3 separate regions of the Homo sapiens genome follow, and regions 1 and 3 are each linked to region 2. The links come from fine-mapping of genetic effects on gene expression. A gene starts in region 2. Each other region holds a variant in brackets. All regions are shown on one strand. Distances are from middle to middle.

Region 1 (6,551 bases), 67 kb after region 2:
CCTGCTACCATGAATGATGCAGCATAAAGGCCCTCATCAGATGCTGGCCCCTTGATCCTGGACTTCCCAGCCTCCAGGACCATAAGAAATAAATTGCTGTTCATTACAAACTACCCAGTCTCAGGTTTTGTGTTACAGCAACACAAAATGGAATAAGACAATGTCAAAGCATCATAATATACAAAAAGAAAAAAATATGGTATATATATTCATGTATACACAATGCAGCATTTTTATCCATTTCAATAAATTGAAAATACCAGAAATATTTCTTTTCACCTGACAGGGTCAGCAGTAAACATTTGCCATCTTCCCTCTAACTCTGTGTCACAGTCTAGTCCATAAAGAATGGAACGAAATCATCAATCTACCGTATTATACCACTAATGCCTGCACTGACATTATGCTGATAAGCCCTGGAGAATAAGCAGTAGTAGGTTCTCCAGTTGTTCTATTAAGACACACAAATAAAGGATGTTGCAAAATAACCTATGTAAAGATTCTGGAGCTCCAGTGGTTTGATGATTATTAAGTTATTATCTTTTTCAATAGGAAACACATGTTGCTGAACACTGTGTTTCTTACTACTAAAAAAAGAGGTGTGGCGCATCGTGAAGCTTCTTCACCATGGGTGTCCTATTTGGACCAATTTACCAAGTGAATCCCAAAGTTGTTGGCAGCTTTGAATGGAGCCCAGAATAAGATACGACTCTCCGTTGGGCTTGATTCTACTTTTGTCTTTTGGCTCAGAATATTCAATAGTTCCTGGAGTACCTGGAGTGTATATGAAGCTTGGCAAGTCCAGACAGGCAAATTACAACAGAGACCTTAAATATTATAGACCAATGTTATGTTCTCTTAAACAAGTAACTATTCTCCTTTAAGAAACAGCTCCTGACTTGCTACTGGGATTTACTTAAATGAATGATCATGAACTGGATACTGTCTGATCCATTCAGCCATGAAGTCAGGCCTTCAGTCATCAAGCATAAGAAGTAGTTATAGGATTAGGTCTAAGCCAGCCCTGATACAAATAGTGTTTGCATGACTACATGGTTCACACTCCCCATATACCTTCTCCTGCCACACATTTTACTTTTCTTTAGTCTGCACTTGTGACTGTATGAATGGCTCCCTATGACGAAAGATTTTCTAGAAACCCAACTTGATCCTATTCACAGATGTTTTGGCTTGACATGCCAGCTTCCACCAGAAGTGAGCAATTAAAGAATTTCAACCTGAGACTAGTGGGAAAAACTTTGAATAGTATATCTCTGTCTACTTGGCCTGGAAGAGCAGATTGAAGAAAAAGATTCTATTCCAATTTCTGGACAGTGGTTCTGGCCAGATGAGCAGGGTTTCAGAAAGAAAAAGATCTGAAGATTTGGACAAGGAGATTTGGAGAGGGCATGACCTTTGCAGAATGGGCTCATAGTGTGAGAATCTTTATGTCTCACTTGAATGGTGAGGGAGAACTTGTCTGGCAGTGCCCTGACCTTCACTGGGAGTTGGAGAAAAAGTACCCTCACTTGGGAGGGCCATAGGAGAGCATTAATCTCAGGGAAAGGCGTGAAGGTGGAGGCAATAATGAGTGGAGTCTTTGTGGACCAGGAGCTGCCAAAAGTGTTGGGAGGAAGGAGAAGAGCAAGGTTTTACATTGTTGAAGCACAATACAGTGTGGTGCTAACAGTGAGGGGAGACTCCAGGTTCAACACGGGACTTTGGGTTTTGATTGAGGCTGATCGAGAGGGAAGACATGGTGGATTTATTTGTCTGAGGGAGTTCTGAATCACAGAAGTGTACCAGAGAAGGTTTTATTTAATAACTAGGACTCCAACTGGGCAGGGAACTCTGGCCTCTAGAGAAGGACTCAGCAATGGACAGCCAAGGATCCAGGGAGGGACTTCAGTCTTGGGGTGGACCCCCTCTCCTCCCCTCTCCTCCCCCTCCTCCCCTCCCTTCCCCTCCCCTCCCCTCCTTTCTTTCCTTCCTTCATTTCTTTCTTCCTTTCTTTCCCCTTCTTTCTTTCTCTTTCTTTGCCTTCTCCCTCCTTCCTTCCTTCCTTCCTTCCTTCCTTCCTTCCTTCCTTCCTTCCTTCCTTCCTTCCTTCCAACAGGGTCTCACTCTGTTGCCCAGGCCGGAGTGCAGTGGTGTGACTATGGCTCACTGCAGCCTCTACCTCCTGGACTCAGGTAATCCTCCTACCTCAGCCTCCCAAGTAACTTGGACTGCAGGTGTATGCCGCCATGTCTGGCTAATTTTTGTGTTTTTTTGTAGAGAAAAACATGGTAAAACATGGTGGGCAGATGACTTGAGCCCCAGCTGGTCTTGAACTCCTGGGCTCAAGCCATCTGCCTGCTCTGACCTCCCAAAGTGTTGGGACTACAGGTGTGAGTCACGTGCCTGGCCCATTTTCTTCTTCCTTTTTGTTTTGTTTTGTTTTGTTTTGTTTTGAGATGGAGTCTTGTTCTGTGGCCCAGGCACAATTGTGCAGTGGCACAATCTTGGCTCGCTGCAAACTCCGCCTTCTGGATTCAAGCAATTCTCATGCCTCAGCATCCCGAGTAGCTGGGATTACAGGCATGCACCACCATGCCTGGCTAATTTTTCTATTTTCAGTGAGACTCTGTCTCAAAAATAAATAAATGAATACATAAATAAAATAAAATAAAAACATATGGCAGGCAATTTAGTGTATTAGAAAGATTATGACCCAGAGACCTGAGGTATAATCCTGGTTCTGCTATTAGCGAGTTAAACAGCTTGAAGTCACCTTTCTCTAAGGCCCTTGCTTTCTTCATCTGTGAGGGAATTGATAATTTCTGTGCAGTGTATCTTTAGCCTAGACAACAATGTAAAGTATATTTCCTGGAGCCATACAATGTGGAGGCCGTGCAGTGGCCAACTTCCTGCAATAGTGAAGCCCAGTGAGAACTGTGACTTTCTCAGCTTGGAATCAATGCAATCTGATCACCCTTGCCACAGAAGGTGTAATCCATCAGTCCATGGTGTGTGCTCGAAATCAGTGATGAAATGTCCACTGGGGAATTAGCCGGCCCTGCTGTAATGAGTCTTATGCATGCAAGATTGTAGTATTTGTCAAGTGGGAAGCCACAAATATAAATCTAAAAGGGAAGCAGAATGCTTACACATCTTCTGAAGTTCTAATCTCTAGAGGGGTTAGCCAATCAGGCTGACCCCTGGGTCCTGGACTTTAAGGACCCCCACAGATACTTTCTGGTAGGTTACAGAAACATCAAAGTAGGTAGTGGGGAAACACTGGGGCTAGCTGGTGCTGAGGAAAACAAGGCTCTCGTATCTACACATGTGAATTAACTACTAGGGATGGTTGCCTAGCAACATTATTCCCCTCCCCCTTCACACCATCTTTAGCTTGCTTATTGACTTCTTGTGACATCTCCACTTCTCTTCTCTTTTGATATTAGCCTGGTGTTTATTATGAATCAGATTTCAGTTAGTTACAGTGTGTTAAGAATGGTTTGTAGCATAAATGGGTAGAGAACAGATTGATTTTCTGGTAGCATTTGAAAAATATACTGGCCAGGCATCTCTTTAAAAAGTCAATGGCTCACTTTTAGCCATGTAACAAAAGTAGATATTTTGACAGAAAACCAAACACCGCATGTTCTCTCTTATAAGTGGGAGCTGAATGAGAAGACACACGGACATATAGTGGGGAACAACACA[C/G]GCTGGGGCCTCTCGGGGATGGAGTGAGGAGAGGGAGAGCATCAGGAAGAATAGCTAATGGATGCTGGGCTTAACATCTAGGTGATGGGATGACCTGTGCAGCAAACCACCATGGCACACGTTTACCTATGTAACAGACCTGCACATCCTGCACATGTACCCTGGAGCTTGAAGGAAAAGTTGAAGAACTAAAAAGAATGAATGAATGAATGGAAGGAAGGTAGGGATAAATATTATTTTAAACAAACAAATAAAGAGATACTTTAAAATCCTGCCCCCTTATGAAGGTCCTATCCCATGCAATACTCTTCTGCTATCATACTTATAGCTAATGGTTAGGTGGATGTTTCTGGTTCTGTAGGGACCTAGCAATCTGTTGCAGGTAGACTTTAAGATCAGGTTGAATACAACTTTATTTGGTAAAATACTTAACAGCAGGGTTGTTAAATATTTTCTCCAGAAAAAGCAAAAACCAACCCCTAATTTAACACTTTTTTTTTTTTAAAGAGATGGATTATTGCTATGTTGCCCAGTCTGGTCTCAAACTTTTGGGCTCAAGTGATTCTCCCACCTCAGCCTCCCAAGTAGTTGGGACTACAGGCCATGCCACCACCACTGGTTCCTAACTTATAGAATTTGCCAATATCTGTGGTGCAAATACTCTCATGATGGCCAGTTTCAAGCTACCAATGTACTGTCCCTGAATGCAGAGTTGGGAAAAGATGTACACTGTCTGTCTTCATGAATTGGTATCTATCACAACCCTGAAATAATTCTAAAGCTTTCTGTTTAAAGCAGGAGAATTTCATATGTCTGTCAGTAATCCTGCAAACTCCATATCCCAAGAGGATTTAATTCAAAGGGTGAAGTGTTTAGAAAATAAAACAAGGCCGGGCGTGGTGGCTCATGCCTGTAATCCCAGCACTTTGGGAAGCCAAGGTGGGCGGATCACCTGAGGTCGAGAGTTAGAGACCAGCCTGACCAACATGGAGAAACTCTGTCTCTACTAAAAAAAATATATGTATATATATATATATATATATATATATATATATATATATATATATATATATATTTTTGTGTATATATATATATATATATATATACACACACACACACACAAAATTAGCCGGGCACGTGGCACATGCCTATAATCCCAGTACTTTGGGAGGCCGAAGTGGTTGGATCACCTGAGGTCAGGAGTTCGAGACCAGCCTGGTCAACATGGCAAAACCCTGTCTCTACTAAAAATACACAAATTAGCTGAGCATGGTGGCACATGCCTGTAATTCCAGCTACTTGGGAGGCTGAGGCAGGAGAATATCTTGAACCTGGAAAGTGGAGGTTGCAGTGAGCTGAGATTGCGCTACTGCACTCCAGCCTGGGCAACAAGAGTGAAACTCCATCTCAAAAAAAACACCAAAAAAAACAAAAAAACAAAACCCGAGTAAGTTCCATTTCACCAACTCACAGATATGATTAGCCTGAGTTTCCAGAAAAACAAGGAATGAAGGAGAGACTGCAATCCTGTACAAAGTGCCTAGAACAAAACAAGCACCAAATTATTCCTTGCAAAATGTCAGCCATATTTAAAACTGGCTCTTCTTTAGTTAAACATTAAAACTGAGTTTATTTAAATCACTTCTTAAAACTTAGTTTCATCCTAATCAACTCTGTTTATTCTTTTTGTATTTTTTAAATTTTCTTTGAGAGACAGGGTCTTGCTCTGTCACCCAGGCCAGATTGCAGTGCTGCAATCGTACAATCATAGCTCACTGTAGCCTTGAACTCCTGAGCTCAAGTGATCCTCCTGCCTCAGCCCACACACCCAGTCTATCTTCATTCAATCTGATGAATGGTGAAATGGTTACGTTTTCAAACACATTTTAAAACAATTACATAACCTATAAAATAACAAATATTCATCAGATAGTACCTAAAATCACTTTGCATACCATCTGTGGCATCTGTACAGGGATGTGTACCATGCTTTGTGAAACAATGCACCAAGTACGTGTTGGACATTATTATTAATATTTATCTTTGGAGGCTGAGTATTCAAAGGCTCCCTCCAATAATGCAGGTGGTAAATTCTCAGTACTATATTTAGATAAATCATCAGGAAACTTGACTCCCAATATCCTAAAAATCCTTTAGGAAAAGTCTGTCTGGCCTTTCTTTAAAGGTCACTGCTGCTAGGCAACACCTTTCTTCTGGGATGTGGACCACATTTCTTAGATTTTATTAAAGCACTTGTCTTGTCATGGGTGGAGGTGGGGGAACACATTCTGCTTCTATCTAGCATTTCAGTAGAGTCCTAAGCTCAGAGAGGACAACAAGATTCAGTTCAGAAGAGGTCACACATTTCCTCCTTCGTTTTGCACATCTGTGGGTGTTGTGTGCTATAGGCAGTGTGCAGTGGATTGGAAAATAAGGACCTCTGTGTTTCCACCTTTGAGCTGCTACCTACTCCCTGGGTAATCACTGGCCAGCTTCCCAACCGTAGGTCAGTCTCCTCTTGTCAAACCAGTTAGAGCAGGAGGCTGTCTCAACTGTGGGGAAGATCTGATTTCGGAAATGGAAGCTATTCTGCCCCATTCTCCCTCCTGAGCTGATCAATGGCAATTATTCACAACAATGACACATGGTGGGTCATTTTCTTTTAATTTATTGATTTTTAACCATAATGGAGAGAACTTCCCTGTTGCAAATCTGGAAGAGATGTTCTACGCTTCAGAATTGTCCATTTTTCTCCTTGTTTTAAAGGGGACTACAGCATTCCAACCCAAATCTAAATCAAAACCTAATTTCTTCAGGTGGTTAATTGAATCAAAAGAAGAGTT
Region 2 (6,551 bases):
CTCTATAAAGTTCCTGACCGTTGACAGAGAGCTTTTACAGAAGTCTTAGGCAGTACACACAAATACGAACATTTTCAATTTTCCTAAAAGTAAAATAACATTAACAATAATACTTGTACTCTACTTCTTCAAAAACCCATCTTTCCTCCTGGCTATGTACTTTGTCTCACTACATTTATAAGGTAAGTGAATCGTTATTATTTAGATGACTGCTAAAGATATATAAGTAAAGTCTTTTTTTTCTTTCTTTTTTTTTTGAGACAGAGTCTCGCTGTATCACCCAGGCTGGAGGGCAGTGGCGCGATCTCCATTCACTGCAACCTCCGCCTCCCAGGTTCAGGCGATTCTCATGCCTCAGCCTCCCAAATAGCTGGGACTACAGGCGCGCGCCACTGCGCCTGGCCAATTAAAGTCTTAAATCTTAGATAATTTTTTTTGTATTTTTAGTAGAGACAGGGTTTCACTATGTTAGCCAGGCTGGTCTTGAACTCCTGACCTCGTGATTTGCCTACCTCAGCCTCCCAAAAGTGCTGGGATTACAGGTGTGAGCCACCTCGCCTGGCCAAGTAAAGTCTTAAATCTTAGATACTGGTCTACTAGTAATTCACTGCTTAGAATGACCTTGCATTTGTGCCACATATCTGCCCATTTCCATTTTCCTGCCACCAAACTCCTGCCTCCACTCCCAATCTTCCCTCAGTGACACGTGATGTCATATAAGCAGCATCTTCCTACATGTCCATTTTACATTAGGACTTGTTTTCAGGAAGTGGCTACATCCAAGGCAGACATAAAATCAGGACTTGAAAAATTTTCCAAAAAACAATCATTCACTCATTTTTTGGCAAAAACAATAGCAGTTATACAAGATAGATGAGTCTGTACATTTCATTTTTAAAAACTTCAGACTTCCAGTTTTTCAGAGCATTTCTTTAAAATTCCTAGGTCACACAAATTATTTAATAAACAATTTGTCAATTTGCCTTGCACAGTGGGGAGAACGTTATACACAAAAATGTACACTGAGCAAATCAAAGTGCTAGTGACAAATAAGTAAGCCACCTCCCTCCCCTCATCATCACGCCCACGAAATAAAGATCAAAAACTCCCTTCGCCAACCACAGGGAGGCCTCTTTTTCTATTTCTTTCTCATAACACATAATGGTACCAAAAAATCATAATGAAAATAAGGTCAATATACTTAATCCATAATATAATAATCTCAACTAATTTTAGTCATCTCTCTTTCTAACAACACTTAAACGATCAGGCCACACTATGCAAATCAAATTAAAATTTATTTTTTTGCTTTTTTCTTCCAGTCCCAAAGGAAAACTCCAAATACCACTCATCTTGCTGAAAACCACAGTAAAGTTATTTAATTCCAGTTAAACCAAATATTTCACCCACACACTCTTAAACTTTAATCTTAAACATATCCATGAAATGTGATGTTTGAAGAGCTTTCCTTATTTACTCACCAGATCATCAATATACAGAGAGCTCTTCCTAAGCACAGGCCCCCATCTATGTTTTCAGTCGATACTAAATATTTAGAGAAATACTCTGTTACAGTAACTTTTAAAAAAATTCTACACTATCATTTGAATTTTTAAAAAAATTTAGTTAAGCTTAGTTTCCATAATTCTCATTAGGCAATCCAGGATGTGGGTGTTTTTTAATTTCCTTTTCATGGAGAAAAAGGAAGCTTTGTATCAGGACATCAGATGTATATGGGAAAATACATATTTCAATGCACATATAAGTAAATACATATTTTGTTTGTTTAAAGATCCTTTTGCCTACTCCACTCACAATGTAAATACACCACAGTCAAATTCCATAAATTCAGTTTTAAATGTATGTATGAAAACTAGGTTTTCTACTAAAGTTGACCAGAGCCCAAAACACTCTGTCTAATACACAGTCAAAGGAAACAGCAATCAGCCCTTAGATGCCCCGAAAGAAACTATTCTTTGTTTACCTAGAAACTGAAAGATTTTACACTGAGAATCACAGCTGCTACAGCAATGGAGGTATGCTCTGAATCCAGATAGCCATATTAGACTCTCATTGATTTGTTAAAAATTTAACATTGTAAATGAAACCAAAGCAACCACCAACACCAACCAGGTAATTAAATTCCTGGTTGGAAGAAGTTTCAAAATCCAAGCCCAATGTCAACATCTGGCAAGTCTCCATTTACCACCTACCAATACTTGCTCAAATTACACTGAAAATTTAGATAGAGGGTAAAGTACTAAGATTTTTAAAACCTATTAATTAGTTTGTACCCTCCGTTTAAATCACACATAAAAGCTAACTCCAATTGCAATTATAATCTTAGTGTTTGTCCTGTTGTCACAGAAGGGCAAGGGCTGACAAGAGTTAGCACGGACAATTAAATCTGATTTTGTCCAGGGGACTGGATCAATATACTGTGCATCATAATCTAGCCCTGAACTGCTGCCTCTCCTCCACCCCCAGGCCCTTGGATCAGGCGGTTTACCGCTGGGTTAGTAACTCTTTTCTCTATGATTTGCGCATCTCCAGAAAGGGCGAGGGAGACGCCTGATTCAAACTGCATTTGTTTACCACCCAATGGCCCCATCGTTATGCATTTCCACAATCCAGGAGGGTACGCTTCTGGTACCCCCTTTACCTGCCAAGTTCCTCGCCGGTGTCGTAGTAATCATCCACGTTTTCCTGCCTGAACACGGTCATGATAAACTGTCACGCCTCACCAAAGCCCAGGGCACTTCAGCTCCGCTTCCCAGACCATCACCACCGCTCCTGCGCCTCCGTAGCCCCCTCATGCATCAGTCTCCAGTCCTTTTGAAGAAAAAAAAAAGGCAATAATAATAGTAAAATGGCAACCCCAAAAGGAAGTAGACCTCCCCGGCGCTAAGACCCCGCTCGCTGAAGACCGGGTCTCCGGAGCTGCCCCTCCTCGCGGGGTGGAGAGGAGCACCCTTTGTTAAAGCTGGGCGGCCAGGGACGCCCCCGACCCCTCAGCCCCGCGCGCGCGTGGGGCCGGGCACCACGGCACCCCGAGGTCGGCGTCCCCAAACGCTGGGCGGTCTGTTGGGATCAGAACCGGCTCCGGAAGTGACTGGCCTCCCCGCCTCCCCTTTCTCTGCACACATGCCCACCCAGCTTTCCCACCTCCAGGGACGCCGCGGAAGAATGAAGCCCTCGCCCAGACGGTACGCGCCTCACTGGGAGCAATCTCTCTCCAGCCTGCGGCAACGGTGGCACCCCCGCGCCACCTCTCGGCTCCCGCGCCTCTCCTAACACCGTGGCCACCCTCTCCCCTTCCCCGAGCGAGGCAGTCCCCAGAGCCACATTCCTGGCGACTCCCTCTCCGTTACCCGGCCGACCCGGCGTGCGGCCGCCCGGGGGAGCAAGGGAGGGAAGGGAGCGGCCCACCGAGGCGCAGCAGTTCGCTCCAGATCCTCGCGCCCCGACACAAAGCGCCTGGTCGGGCCGGCGCCACCTGTTCTCACCCGGCCCGCGGGGCTGGGGAAGCCTCCCGGCTGCGATCGCACTTCTCCCCGAAGCCAAGTTTCCCTCCGCCTTGGCCTTCCCAGTTGCTCGAGGCACTGCCCGGACAAACCCCACCGCGCCCTGGCTGGGAAAGCAAAAGCTGGCGCCGGGGGTCGGGGGGACCGGGGAGCCGCGCCTGGCTACTCACCCGGGCGCCTGGGAGCTCCCCCGGTCCCTCCGGAGCGCTGTCGGAGGCCGACCATAGGCGCCAGCGCCGGAGACTAGCCGGGGCGGCGGCGGGAACACAGCTAGGGAGTGAGTGGGGGGCGCAGATCCCTCCCAGGCGCCGGCCCCAGACCCTGCCGCTGCGAGTTGCCGAGTCCCCTCCGCGGAGGGAACAAAGTCCCCGGCGTTGGCTCGGTCCGGCTGTCCTCCTCACACTCCGAAGCAGCCTCTCGGCTCCTTGCCGCCTTTTGGGCGGAGGGCGGCCGGCAGGCGGCCAATGGGGACCCTGCAAGCGGGCTGGCGGCGCGGCCCACCCACCTCCGAGCTGCCCTGCCAGGCCGGCGCTGCGGGTTCTGCGCGGCGCTCGCTGCTCCTCCCAGCTCCGCGCTCCGGGCTCGCTGGCGCGCTCTACCGCGCACACCCCGCACACACCCACTCGCCCCACACCCACGCCGGCCGGGGAGCCAGTGCGTCCGCCCGGAACGCGGGCGCCCCACCTGTGACACATTGCTAAGCTGCCCTCTGACTGGGTTCTAGGGAAACACGGTTCTTCCGTCCCGAGATGTGTACTGGGATCCCAGCTTGTGCCGGGCACGGTGCTTGGTATGGGAAAATCACATAGAACAAAACAGATTTTTTTAAATCCCTGCCTTCCGGAAACCTGCATTCTGGTGGGACAGATAGATAATAAATATGTAAGCTAATTAATAAGGTAATTTTGGAGGATCAGTCCTACGTTTACCACGAAACAGGTTAATGGAATAGAGAATGGCAGGAAGGGAGCGTACCTCATTAGACTGGGTTCCTCTGCCGGACTGGTGTTGGAGCCGAGGCTTGAAGGCAAGAAGGTTTGCAATCTGAAGAAAGGGTTGAGGTCTCCGAGACCCAAAGAAGCAACAGAGACGCAGAGTTTATTTGCGCTATCCCATATGCTATTGGCTATTGTTGAGCTGAAATGTAGCTAGTCCCAAATTAATTGTGCTGTAAGTGTAAAATACACATTAGAGTCCAAGACAGTATGGATATGAGAATGAAAAATATCTCATGAATATTTTTATATTCATTACACTTTCAAATGATAGTATTTTGGATACGTTGGGTTAAACAAAATATATTATTAAAATTAATTTCACCTGTTTACTTTCTTTTTTTTGAGACGGAGTCTCACTCTGTCGCCAGGCTGGAGTGTAGTGGAGCGTGGCAACCTCCACCTCCAGGGTTCAAGTGATTCTCCTGCCTCGGCCTCCCCAGTAGCTAGGACTACAGTCGCGCGTCACCATGCCCAGCTAATTTTTGTATTTTTAGTAGAGACGGGGTTTCACCGTGTCGACCAGGATGGTCTCCATCTCTTGACCTCGTGATCCGCCCGCCTGGGCCTCCCAAAGTGCTGGGATTACAGGCGTGAGCCACCGCGCCCGGCCTCACCTGTTTACTTTTTAAAAGGTGGCCACTAGAAAATATAACAGTACCTATGTTGCTTGCATGAGATTTCTGAGGACTGTGCTGGTCTACACAAAGATCCCATATCCACTGGAGACCTCTATCCACTTTCTCTACTTCCCACCCCTTGCTCCCACCTAATGTTTGGGTGGAGACGAAGAAGGGTTGATTCCCCACATCCCACTGCTGGAGAACCCCAAACGGTGAAAAGCTCCTAAAGGGAAATCTATTTTACTGCCTAGAATGATGAAAACTGACAGATGAAGAGATTTCCGATCCATACCGTTGTTCAAATCCCCAGGCTTTCTAAACTGAGTTGGTTCAAATCTCTGTGGTTCAACAGAAATTTTCAACTGTGAAGATTTTGGCCTCTTGAAAACAAGGCAAAACAAAACAAAAGAATACCCCTCAGGCCTTATGTCAAATCCTAGTCTTTTTTTTTTTTTTGAGACGGGTTTTCGCTCTTGTGGCCCAGACTGGAGTGCAGTTGTGAAATCTTGGCTCACTGCAAACTCCGCCTCCGCCTCCCGGGTTCAAGCGATTCTCCTGCCTCAGGCTACCCAGTAGCTGGGATTACAGGCATGTGACTATGCCCGGCTAATTTTGTATTTTTAGTAGAGACGTGGTTTCACCATGTTGGTCAGGCTGGTCTTGAACTCCTGACCTCAGGTGATCCTCCCGGCTCGGCCTCCCACAGTGCTGGGATTACAGGCGTGAGCCACTGCGCCCAGCCAAATCCTAGTCTTAAATAACATTGCATTAATGACCCACAGGAAGGGCACACAGGAATCAAGGGGAAGTCCCCAAATTGGGAGATGGTATTAGCTTAAGCAGTGGGCTTGATAATACAAAAGGGTCTTGAGAGGTGAGAAATACAGTCAAAAATAACAACAACAACAAAAAAAGAGTGATTCATCTGGGAAAATGCAAATGAATACATCTGTTGGGAGAAAAAATTTAAAACACAGATGTTTGGGATAAACTTGGAAGGTGTTTATGGATGACTGCCATATGGGTAATATTTATTTTCTGCAAAATAAAAAATATATTGTCCGAGGCAATTAAAAGGACTGAATCTATTTGGCAGCTAGAATGTCTTAACTACCCTAATGGACAATGATGTTCACCGGAGATTATCTGGAGTAGTGAAAAAGAGCATGAAATTTGGAGTCACAAAATTAGATCTAGTATTGGTGGAACCATTTAACAGCTTAATAACCTTGGATGAGTCACTAACCCCCGAGCTTTTTGTGTACACCAATTTAGACAAGCATTTTAGAAAGGGGAAATGTGGTCATTTAAAAACATATTCACAAATTCTTTGACACTCCCCCAATCAAGAGGTGGAGTCTAATTCCCCTCTCAATAAATATTCACCAACCCTATCTGCTTGCTTCTAA
Region 3 (6,551 bases), 62 kb before region 2:
CTTAGGGGCCCAAATGGCAATCATTCACATGCTCACAACTCTGTGGGTTGCAACATGGGCTGGGCTCAGCTGGGCAGGTCATCTCCTCCTCCTGGTGCTGGCTAGGCTCAGCCACATGTCTGCAGTCTGAGAGGCGGTGGGGTGGGAGGTGCTGGCTGGTGGGCTGACAGCCTCACCTGAACATCTGGTGGTGTGTGCTGACTGATGGCTGGGCCTCTCACTTCACATGGCCTCTTATCCTCCAGGAGGCTTGACAGAGCATCTTTACATAAAAGCAAAGTGTCCCACAAGAGCAAGGTCTAACCTTGGACATCACACATGTCTCTCTGCAAGACTCTGCTGGGCAGAGCAAGCCACAAGGCCAGCCCCAATTCAGGGAATACGGGGAGTCAAGCCAAGATGCAACAGGGAGGCACAGTTCTCTGAGACCATGAACACTACAACCCATCCCAGAGTGGAAATAAATAGTGTTAGTGCAGGTGTTCACACTGTATCTTTCAAATGGGAGTGTGAACCACTTAAATTCAAAAGCATTCAAGGAGCTTAAAAATCATATTCATCTTTGTGCCCTCAATTGCTACTCCCATATTCTTCCTCATACAGTATGTGTTTAATAAATTTGTGTGGATTGGTTGACTAAATTCTGACAAATGCATGTACTTATAAACTTAGAAATTGGAGTTTACCAGGAAAGAATGCCGGAAGGTACAGTTAATAAAGAACAAAAAGTCTCTTTTGCTTACAAAATGCTTCCAGACAACAGAATAGAAACATGAGCATTTCACAAAGAGGGGCCCAAGATCTGCCCCTGAAATTCACCAGTACCAAATCTCTAGGCGGATCATCACCCTCCTTCCATTGTCCAACCTTCACTCCAAATCACATCATTTGTCATGAAGAAAGTAAAAAAGTTTAAGAGGTCAGCACTTGTTTGAGGTTCTATAAAAAAGCTGAGCAAGTCATCATGCCTGGGAAGAATCCTCTTTAAATCATTCCTTAAGTTTAATATAAAGCAAATTGTCTTTGCTCTGCAATAGCAGCAGACTTTTGCTTCAATCTGTCTTCCAAATTTGGGCACCTGACATGCTATTATTTGATGAATTACACTTGGCAAGGTTTATTTATTTCCTTCTGGACAGTGTGCTTTAAATTAAGCAAAACAGTATGTCAGGTGGTTACATGGACAATCTCAACTTCTTTCAGGTGTAAATAATGTAGAGCCTTTGAGATAGCAAATGACTCAATTCCTAATACTCTTTTCTATAAAAATATTATAGAATTCTCTATTTAAATAACTACTGTGGCAGTGACAGTCATCAAATATTTCAGGGTCCTCTCCTTTCAGCATGAGGTAGGAGGACACACCCATGCTTTCACATTGAGTGTGGCCATGTGACTTCTGGCCAATGAAAGTGGGCTCAACTCCTCCTGTTGGTTCCCGACGAAAGCCTCAAGACCCAGTCCTTAATTTGTGACAGCCTCTTCCTCACCAATGTGATTGCAACTTTCCACACAGTGGAGGCTTCATTACCTTCAGTCCTGGAGTTACGACACAGGAGGACAAGGCTCCAACTAACTCACGTTCGCTATTGGGGTTGTTTGTTACAGTGGCATGACTTTGCCCATCCTAACTCAGTATAACTATGATGAACATATAGCTCAACTGCTGTGTCTTCGTTCCATCACCTGAACCCCAAGAAGGTAAACACTGAAGACCACCAGGTAGATACAGAACTGCAGGAGGCCTGCCCTGCACAACCCCCTTCCCTCTCCCCATGAGAATCCCCACATTACTCAGGGCAGCGATGCATCTCTTCTCCATGCTCTGGGGTGGAGTGAGGGTCCCTGTGGCCCAGTCTGGATGATGAGAAGTGTGCAGAGCCCCTTGCAGGCAGCTCACAGGGATGCCCATTCAGGGGGCCAGTAAAGCTGGAGTGCACCCCCTTTTGCTTCCCTTCCCTTCTCCTTGCTTGAACCCTGGGCATGGTGGATGCAGCTCTGGTTGACACCCTAAGGAGGGGGGCAGAACCCAGGGAGCCTGGGTCTCCAATGGCACTGAGGAGCTGCCAGATAAGCACTGTCCACACACAGCCCCACTTCTGGATGAGAAGAAAATGAACCTTTAACTTAAGTAAACTGCTGTCTAAGGGGCTTCCATTTCTAGCACCCAAATGCAATGCCTATCAAACTTCCATGGAGCAGGGGAATCCCCCAGGGCAGGTCTGGGGAATTTCTTTATTCAATGGGAAGTTAATGACCCAGAGAAATAAAAAATCAATGAAAGGTTTCATTAGAATAGAAATTCACTCTGGCTAACATATTTGGTGTATTTTTTTTTTCTTTTGAGACGGAGTCTCGCTCTGTCGCCCAGGCTGGAGTGCAGTGGTGCCATCTCGGCTCACTGTAAGCTCCGCCTCCCGGGTTCACGCCATTCTCCTGCCTCAGCCTCCCGAGTAGCTGGGACCACAGGCGCCCGCCACAACGCCCGGCTAATTTTTTGTATTTTTAGGAGAGACGAGGTTTCACCGTGTTAGCCAGGCTGGTCTCGATCTCCTGACCTCGTGATCCGCCCGCCTTGGCCTCCCAAAGTGCTGGGATTACAAGCGTGAGCCACTACGCCCGGCCACATATTTGGTGTATTTTGTAGCAATGATTGGGGAGGGCATAAAGGCTCAACTCTTGCTGCCCAAAAGATAGGAAATAAGCACAAACGGCTCCTCATCTAATATATTATTGGTTCCGCTATTTTAATTTCATATTTTATTTTGGGGAAAATGAAGGGAAAGGACAAAAAAGTAAAAGACAAGGGCACTCAAATGTCCACTGATGGATGAATGACTACATGACATGAGATTTATACACATAATGGAATAGAATGCAGCCTTTAAAAAGGAAGCACATCCTAGCCAGGCGCGGTGGCTCACACTGGTAATCCCAACACTTTGTGAGGCCGAGGTGGGTGGATCACCTGAGGTCAGGAGTTCAAGACCAGCCTGGCCAACACGGTGAAACTCCGTCTCTACTAAAAATACAAAAGTTAGCCGGGCGTGGTGGTGGGTGCCTATAATCTTAGCTACTCGGGAGGCTGAGGTAGGAGAATTGCTTGATCCTATAAGGTGGAGGTTACAGTGAGTGGAGATCATGCCACTGCACTCCAGCCTGGGTGACAGAGCAAGACTGTCTCAAAAAAAAAAAAAAAAAAGTACGTTCTGACACATGCCTCAACGTGGATGAACCTCAAGGACATCATGCTAAGTGAAATAAGCAGGTCACAAAAGCACAAATATTGTGTGATTCTACTCATGTGAGGTATCTAAAGTAGTCCAAATCACAGAAACAGAAAGTAGACTCATATCTGCCAAGGGGTAGGGGAAGGGGGAGTTTGTGTTTA[G/A]TAGGCACGAAATTTCAGTTTTGCAAGATGAGAAAGTTCTGGGGAAGTGTCACGCAACAATGTGATATAGCTGACACAACTCAGTTGCACGCTTTAAAATGTTTAAATGGTAAATGTAATGTTATGTGATTGTAACCACATATTAAAATAAACTTTCAAATAAATTTTAAAGTTCCAAGGGCAGGCTGGGCATGGTGACTCACACCTGTAATCTCAGTACTTTGGGAGGCCAAGGCAGGCAGATCACTTGAGGTCAGGAATTCTAGACCACCCTGGTCAACATGGCGAAACCCCGTCTCTACTAAAAAAAAAATACAAAAATTAGCCAGGCGTGGTGGCATGCACCTGTAATCTCAGCTACTAGGGAGGCTGAGGCAGGAGAATAGCTTGAACCCGGGAGGAGGAGGTTGCAGTGAGCCAAGATCGAGCCTGGGCGACAGAGCAAGACTCCGTCTCAAAAAAAAACAAAAAAAGAAAAAAGGAAAGAAAAAGATTCAAGGGCAGAGGAGGGAAGAGGAGAGAGGAGACTTCATAAACCAAGGTGGGGAGACAAAAGAAGCGGATGGAGGCAGAGGAAGGGCAAGATAGGGGGCATGAAGAATGGGGGCCTTTCTGAGGAGTGGGCACACGAGTCTGGTGACACTGGGTCACTCACTGGGGCAGCAGGCATCAAAGGTCCACACCAGAGTCCTTTCCAACACCCGGGACTATTGTAGACATTCGCCTGCTCACTGGTCTCAGTTCAAAAAGAACCATGCAGCAATTCTTGGAGTTCAGACATTCTCACAGCCTGAGCTGCTTAGTACCTAGGAGGGGCTCAGCAAAGATCTTTCAAATCAATCAATGATCAAACAGTGCTAATCAAGTCCAAGGCGTCCTACATCCTGCTTTTGAGAGCGTCCTGGGAGGGCCCTCAGCTGCAGGGAAAGTCCACCACAGTAGCTACTAGTCACGGTGCTAGTGAAATTTAACTAAAATTAAAGAATATTAAAAATTTACCTTTTTGGAAACACTAGTCCCATTTCACATGCTCAACAGTCACATGTGGCTAGATGTTACCACACTGGGCGGCACAGAACATTCCCATAATTGCAGAAAGGTCTATGCACAGCATTGGTGTAGATGCTACCCTACCCTACACTACCCTGCCCTGCCCTACCCTACCCTAGCCTAGCCTACCCTAGCCTACCCTAGCCTATCCTGTAATAAAAAGAAGCATACCTGGGGCATTAGAAACTCTAGAGTACTAGAGATGACACATTACCTCTACCTTAATTTCTTCATTTGTAAAACAAGGATAATATTTCATCTAACTTATAGGGTTAAGTAGATTAAATTAGATAATACACGTCAAGCACAAAATCCCCGTCTCAGAGTACAGGCTCTACGAATGCCAACTGTCATTTTGTTGGGGAGAAGGAGGAGATAGCTGGTGCATGCATGTGCACACACATGCACCTGTGATTTCTTACAGAGAGAGACCATGACTTACCCTCCCCTCCCCCAGAGTGGGAACAGTTTTCAACAAGTGACTGGAATGGGTGGTACCTCCCTGATGCCCCACTGGGTAGAGGCCCTGTGGGCAGGTTCCAGGCAGTCTGGTTTCTCCTTTCCCACCTGCCTAACAGGAGTCCGCCCACATGGAGCATGGGAATCATGCTTTCTGCACGTGGGAGCCCAAATGGGTAGATGCAGCTCACAGAGCAGGCTCTAACTGAGCCCCCATGTGGCTATAGCAGGCTGTCCAAGGAATCCAATGAAGCAATGAAGGGGTCTGCAGACAGGAACTACCAAGTCAACAAAAACTCCCTCCATCACAGCCCTTCCCTGCAATGACAAGTCACAAACAGCAGAAACCAAGAGACCAGCTAGTATCGAGGAATTGTTCGTTTTCGTCGAAAGGGACGTTGGTGTGCAATGACCACCTTACAGCTTGTGTATCTGTACTCACACGGCTGTGTGTGTGTGCATATGTGTACTTATGTATGTGGAGCATATTATCAAGTGATTCTGAGATCCTGTATTCATGGAAGATTTTTAGTTGCAAAGCTTATTCGACTAGATCCCTTCATTCTTTTTCATCTTGCTTTATTTATTCTGTCCCGTTGATCTGTGGGTATATCCTCAGGGGTGCAATGCAGTCCAGTGGCCTGCTCTTGACAAAAGAGCATGATCCATTTTGGTAAATAGCTCCTGGGATGCTTCAGGGAGAGGTGCTGACAGGCCAAGATGCATACCCACTGTGCAGTAACATGTGAGTCCCTAAGAGAGTCCATGACCACCATGTGAAACCAGACAGACCACAAGCTTCTGGCAGCTCTCAAGGGGCTGGCAAGATGACAGGACTGTGACAAGCTAACTGCCCATTACCACACTGGGCAGGACCTCACAATGCTGCTGATCAAAATTAAAATGAAAGATTTATTATGGCTGAGCAAGTAAAAGAAGGAAAACATCCAAAAGATTCCAAACTGACTTATCCAACAAGAGACACGCCTGGCTAAAGGATTCGGTTTTTGTTTTTTGTTTGTTTGTCTTCAGACGGAGTCTCACTCTGTCACCCAGGCTGGAGTGCAATGTCATCATCTCAGCTCACTGCAACCTCCGCCTCCCAGGTTCAGGTGATTCTCAAGCCTCAGCCTCTCAAGTAGCTGGGACTACAGGTGCATGCCACCACACCGAGCTAATTTATGTAATTTTAGTAAAGACGAGGTTTCACCATGTTGGCCAGGCTGTTCTCGAACTCCTGACCTCAAGTGATCCACCCACCTTGGCCTCCCAAAGTGCTGTGATTATAAGCATAAGCTACCGCGCCCTGCCAAGGATTAGGTATTTTTTAAAATCCAACACATTTTTCTTTTAATGGATCACTTCTCAATGAGTAATGTTTTAACAGGAGGGGGGTTCTGTAAGAGATAGAAAAAAAATCTAATGGCTTTGTCCCAAGATCATTTGTCAATAAAAGCTACTGACCATTTAATATTATTTTAAATTCATAATTCCTTAATCGGCATGGTTTTAGAGCTCACAAAAGATGTTTTGAATCACAGGAAGAAAGCTGTATTTTCTTCATGAGATTAATAATCTAATTTGGAAGGACGAGGAAGGCAGTGGGTGAAACGTAGAAAGAACACGACAGGAAGGTACAGGACAAAGGGTC

Which allele goes with the higher level. Positions count from the first base shown, and alleles are read on the strand shown. Sizes are in standard deviations (SD) of each study's normalised expression. Not every link is listed here.
For the expression in monocytes after LPS of the gene that starts at base 3,935 in region 2, G is the high allele of the variant in region 3 and A is the other (large effect, 1.1 SD a copy in Quach 2016).

Evidence for each region. PIP is the estimated chance that this variant, and not a neighbour inherited with it, causes the effect.
Region 1: its variant is the best candidate, but not a certain one, in a credible set for the expression of DAPK1 in whole blood (INTERVAL, PIP 0.62).
Region 3: its variant is the best candidate, but not a certain one, in a credible set for the expression of DAPK1 in monocytes after LPS (Quach 2016, PIP 0.64).

What each region holds. Positions count from the first base shown.
Region 1 is chr9:87,428,519-87,435,069 of GRCh38, reverse strand. No RefSeq gene overlaps it. Among named protein-coding and RNA genes, the nearest start is that of DAPK1, 66 kb to the left of the region's middle. The variant C/G (reference allele first, on the strand shown) is at 3,709.
Region 2 is chr9:87,495,251-87,501,801 of GRCh38, reverse strand. DAPK1 (death associated protein kinase 1) reads right to left here and starts at 3,935. Exons shown (of 26, transcript NM_004938.4): 1 at 3,695-3,935; 2 at 2,663-2,832. The coding sequence starts at 2,724. RefSeq lists silencers at 2,977-3,086, 3,297-3,486, 3,857-4,206, 4,227-4,286 and an enhancer at 2,829-3,586.
Region 3 is chr9:87,557,319-87,563,869 of GRCh38, reverse strand. The region is part of intron 2 of DAPK1 (death associated protein kinase 1); the gene reads right to left. Among named protein-coding and RNA genes, the nearest start is that of DAPK1-IT1, 7.1 kb to the right of the region's middle. RefSeq lists enhancers at 1-80, 1,720-1,889, 3,942-4,111 and a cis regulatory region at 1,804. The variant G/A (reference allele first, on the strand shown) is at 3,392.